Regions from separate parts of the Homo sapiens genome. Here region 2 is linked to region 1. Evidence: fine-mapped expression QTL. Tissue or cell type: nasal epithelium. Region 1 holds a variant in brackets; the other region holds the start of a gene. All regions are shown on one strand. Distances are between the middles of the regions.

Region 1 (2,689 bases):
AAGTAACAAGGCACACTCTATTGATATGCATTAAAACAAAAAATCTCAACAAACCAAGCAAGTTTCTTGCAGAACCTAAGGACTTCTATATTTCATTAAGAAAATGTATTGTAAAGGTAAAAAAGCAAATGATAGAACAGAAACAGCGCAATATTCTGAATTGAAGAAACAGTGCAATATTCTGAATTACAGTGGTCTTTAAGTAAATAATAAGCATTAATATTCTCTTCATAAAGACGAGTTTACTAATTTAGTATCATAAAAACATTTTTTTTCAAAAGCCATGTCCAAGTGGGCACCAGTTAAAATAGGACAGGGGTGATTGTTACACTTTCAATTTGTGGAACATTTTTCTTCCTTAAACATTCCAGAGCTTTTATGCAAACATAATTATTAAAGTGCATATGTCATTGGTTCTGAACTTAATATCTGAATTTTCTGTGAGAAAAACAAGGAATTCTTTTCATTTGGATCCTGACTCAGCACTTACATCCCATTTACTTTTAGTCACTGTGTTTCTGCTTACAGTATGTGAAATACTCTCACCAGAACAAAGGTCCCAGCGTCAATAAGTCAAACCGCAGACTCTGACAGCTGAGTGAATAGCAGAGGCCAGAGTCCACTTGAAGTGTTCACACTCTCAGAGGCCAAGTTTAGATCTTATCTGCCTGAGATTCCTTTTAACACTGATTTGTCATAGCAGGTAGCTGACAGCATCTACTCCTGAAGACCGGAAACATGGCTTGTACCATCCAAAAGGCAGAAGCACTTGACGGGGCTCATTTGATGCAGATCCTCTGGTATGATGAGGAAGAGTCTCTCTACCCAGCTGTATGGTTGAGAGACAACTGTCCGTGCTCTGATTGCTACCTGGATTCTGCAAAAGCACGGAAACTTCTAGTGGAAGCTCTTGATGTGAACATTGGAATTAAAGGCTTGATATTTGACAGAAAAAAGGTAATTATCTCTAAATTATGTCTCCCTTCTTTCTCAAGTTCAATAATGGGGCTAGTCAACAATAATTTAGATAACTCTTTTTTATTTGGTCACGCATATATAACCGCATATGAACCCACGTTTGTATAGTACTTGGTGCGAATTAAGTATATTCAGTAAATGGAAGCTTCAGCTATTATTATTACTATTATCATTACTACTACTATTTTTAATAAAATTTGCAGTGTTACTTGTCTTTTAGTCAAATTAGTATGTAGAGATACAAGGCTTGTTCTGGGATTCCCAAAAGCACAGCTCTCAAAACTACAAACCAGAGGCAGCCACCATTCCATGTTTCTCTCTTCCAAATTTACTAGGATTCTTATTATGCTCTTGTCCACATCCCGACTTGAGGACTTTACTCCCAGATTTCACTGCTTGCTAGCTAGATAGAAATGTTGTTTACTCT[T/C]ACATTTCTCACCTGAAAAAAATGAGAATAATAGTAGTACCTTCCCCCTAGAGTTGTAAAGATTAAATGTGTTATGTCTATAGTACTTGTTATGGATACTCAAAATAGTGTTATTTTTATTATTGCTGTTGTACTCCTTATCATCACTACTATTACTTACTTTTATTTATTTATTTTTGAGATGGAATCTTGCTCTGTTGCCCAGGCTGGAATGCAGTGGGGCGATCTCAGCTCACTGCAACTTCCGCCTCCCGGGTTCAAGCAATTCTCCTGCCTCAGCCTCCCAAGTAGCTGGAATTACAGGTATGGGCCACCATGCCCGGCTAATTTTTGTATTTTTAGTAAAGACGGGGTTTCACCATGTTAACCAGGCTGGTCTCAAACTCCTGACCTTGTGATCTGCCTGCCTCGGCCTCCCAAAGTGCTGGGATTACAGGCATAAGCCACCACACCCAGCTGCACCATTACTATTTCTAATACTCTTGGCAGGAATCTTAATTGACAACTAGCTTCAGTTATCACAGAAAGTTTGGGGATCCCAGGTTTAGAGGATGTAGGTCAAGAACTGTAGATCTATCCATGCTCTATTTCTTGAGTGCTATTTAAGGGCCTCAGACCTCAGATGTATTACTTTGGCTTCCTTGTTTTCCAAAAGCGTATGCTTAATCTCTGTCTTAAAAATTAAGCTGGCCAGGCATGGTGGCTCACGCCTGTAATCCCAGCACTTTGGGAGGCTGAGGCGGGCGCATCACAAGGTCAGGAGATGGAGACTGTCTTAGCCAACATGGTGAAACCCCGTCTCAACTAAAATACAAAAAATTAGCCAGGCGTGGTGTCGCGTGCCTGTAATCCCAGCTACTTGGGAGGCTGAGGCAGGGGAATCGCTGGAACCCGGGAGGCAGAGGTTGCAGTGAGCCGAGATTGCGCCACTGCACTCCAGCCTGGCAACAGAGGAAGACTCCGACTTAAAAAAAAAAAAAAAAAAAAATTAAGCAAAGCATAATTGGATTCCCTGATTATCTTAAACAGCATTCAAAAACAGAGCAATAGTGGAGAACGGAAATAAAATCCACATAGGTGAAATTTGCTTTTTGTGTTATAAGGTGTACATCACATGGCCCGATGAGCATTACAGTGAATTCCAGGCTGATTGGCTGAAGAAAAGATGCTTTTCCAAGCAGGCCAGAGCAAAGCTCCAAAGAGAATTGTTTTTTCCAGGTAACTTTGCCAAAGTCTTCAATGTCTTTTTAAACCCTTACAGTAAAGGATTTTTATTAAGAAATT
Region 2 (2,689 bases), 330 kb before region 1:
CTTCATTGAGAATCATTGTAAAGCCAAAACACCACTGCCTCATTTCCCTCACATTAAATAATTCCCATATTTGTATTATTTAGCAATTCCTTTCGTTAAAATGTTTTGTACTTTTCAAAAATGTTTCCATTTCCTCATTAAAAATTAGTCTTATTATAATTTGTATTAAAATGCCCTCTACTCTCTGACGGAAAGGCCACTAAGTAGAGATACAGAAAAAATTAGGTTCTCAGGTCACTTTACTATTCAAAAATCTTAACTAAGTCATTTATCTGTATCTCAGTTTTCTTAGCTGGAAAATTGCCGTACTCATGAGAAATGTTCTGTTTGCTTTTCAGAATGATGACGTTCACAATAATAAAAAATAACATCAGCCCTCTTTATTGCAAACCTCCTACAAATGAGGCCATACATTAAGTGCTCACATAGAGGTTCTCATTTGATCATTAAAATAGCCCTGTGGGATTGTCATCATTATTTTCCTTCTACAGATGGGAAAATAGATATGTCTGTCTCCAAAGCTTAGGCTTTTTACAAAAACATTTTAATGTCTTTCTCATAATGTGTAATTATCCTGAAAATCAGTGAGTGTTCTTCAACTACCAGGTGCTATCATCAAGAGGATGAGAAAAAAAAATTAGAGAAGAATGGAGAAATCATCTTACCTCATAAGTGCTGGTGATACCAGATCTGTAGAACACAGGGAGAAAGAGCTCTGATGTTAAGAGGATGACAAATAGGTAAGCAATGAAGAAGACTAGGAAGGATGCCCCAAAGCGGTAGACTTCAGAAGGGGTCCCCAGGACCGTGACAGCTGACATGAAGCTGGCTGTCAGAGACAAGCCGACAGGGCCAAAGCTCATTTGCCTTCCCCCAACCAGGAACTCTCGGGAAGTTGCCTTTTTTCTCTCCTTAATGGCAAAGAACACCCCAATTCCAGAGGAAATGAAAAAGAGGGCTGCAAATACAACATAATCCCAAACTGCAAAGTTCTTCACCTCCATATTGGAAAGTATGACACCAGAGAGTTTCTTTCAACGAGGTCTCAGGAAGAAGATGTTTCCAAAAGCAAAGTTCAGTACAGTGGATGCTTTGCTGAGAGGAGAGACTGTGATTCCCTGAAGAAAATGATTACCAGAGGCACTCGTGTGAATCTTCAGACACCAACGTGTACTTAGTGAAGATCTCAAAAGTTGACTTCAAAGAAGAATCTGGTGGTGGTATTGGCACCAAGAGATGAGAATTTGAAATCTGACCCTAGCTAAGAGCTGTCTGCTCCTCTCCTAAAGCATATGCCACAGAGAAGGAATTCAGATGTGTTCTGAAATTAATAACCACTGGGGGTGGAATGGACTGGCCAGATAACATGCTGTTTTATCTCTTAGATTTTTTTTAACTTAAGGTTAAACATTTCTGGGAAACATAGAATTGATAACAATTTACCACCTCAGCATTTTTAATTCGTGAGATGGAATCTGTAAAATGCAAACACAATCCTCAGCAGTGTCTTCCTCTTGAAGAAGGGAGAGTGAAGGCTGTGTGCCTGCAATTGTCTGAGGCAGTGGATGTGGAGAGAAAGAAGCAAAGGACTAGGAATTCAGAGACCTTTGCTCGAGTCCTGGCTCAACCACGAGAAAGCCATGAAACATTTCATAAATCATTTAACATTTCTGAACTTCACCTGGAACACAGGGATAATAAGACCTTACAAGGTCTTTAAAGACTTAAGTCTTAAACTTCCTGACTCTCTTTGTCTTGATCTGTAAAATGAAAGGTAATAATATGTACCCCATTGGCTATTATCTGTGCTTACAGCAGAGCACTCTGGAACATCATAGCTTTTCTTTCTTTATTCTAGGACCTAGAAAAATCAATTTGCCATTAATTAATAAATTATTTATAGCCTTCAACTTTATCTTGTCTTTCTCTTATTTTCACCAGGTTACTATCACTGTACCCACAGGCTAAGTTAGAATTAGGACCAGGACAAATTAGAGAAGGAAGGTAACAATCCAGTTATAAATTCCTGTTTCTGCTCTCTTTAGACTCTGTCAATTGTTCCAAAGTACCTCTAGTGCAATTTCTAATTTTGTTCATGCTTCTCCTCCTTCTTCAGTGGCCTTCTCCATCCCCACCTCTACAAAGCTTGTGTATTCTACAAGATCTAGTATGAGTTTTCTCTACTCTGTGAAGCTTTTCTGCCTCTCCACGTCAACTCCTGTAGAACGTAGCCTCCCTAGTACTCATTTTGTACTCAGCCATCATCTTGCCTATTTTAGGGAATCTCTATGTAACCGGCTACAGGAGTCTGTCAGCTGTTCAAATGACATTTCCTTGAAGACAGAAGCAAAGCTCTAGTCCATATACCCAATACATTATAGCCATTGTAGAAAATAAAAAAAATAATTTTTAGAAAGGAGAAAACTAAAATTATCCATAATGCCCAAAGACAGAAACATTTCCAGCCAAACAATAAAACAAAAAACGCTCTAATTTTGCTTTTCACATCTGGATAACTGAATAAATCTTTGCTTCATGAATTTGAATTAGACCAAAGAAAGGTTTAATTAGATAGCTAAAGTATGCTTTTAGTTACCAATAAAAATATGAAGACTCTCCCAAGAGCTGTCTGTGTCCTCTGTTTAAATTCCTCCACTAGATTTGGAGATTTGATATGATAAATGTTACT

What was found. PIP is the estimated chance that this variant, and not a neighbour inherited with it, causes the effect.
Region 2: it holds the start of SLC5A12, and the variant in region 1 is fine-mapped to the expression of SLC5A12 in nasal epithelium (TOPMed, PIP 0.90).

Annotation. Positions count from the first base shown.
Region 1 is chr11:27,054,693-27,057,381 of GRCh38, forward strand. It overlaps BBOX1 (gamma-butyrobetaine hydroxylase 1), which reads left to right. Exons shown (of 9, transcript NM_003986.3): 3 at 701-957; 4 at 2,509-2,623. The coding sequence starts at 739. The region is part of intron 3 of BBOX1-AS1 (BBOX1 antisense RNA 1); the gene reads right to left. Among named protein-coding and RNA genes, the nearest start is that of BBOX1, 15 kb to the left of the region's middle. The variant T/C (reference allele first, on the strand shown) is at 1,406.
Region 2 is chr11:26,720,711-26,723,399 of GRCh38, forward strand. It overlaps SLC5A12 (solute carrier family 5 member 12), which reads right to left and starts at 1,350. Exons shown (of 15, transcript NM_178498.4): 1 at 666-1,350. The coding sequence starts at 1,004.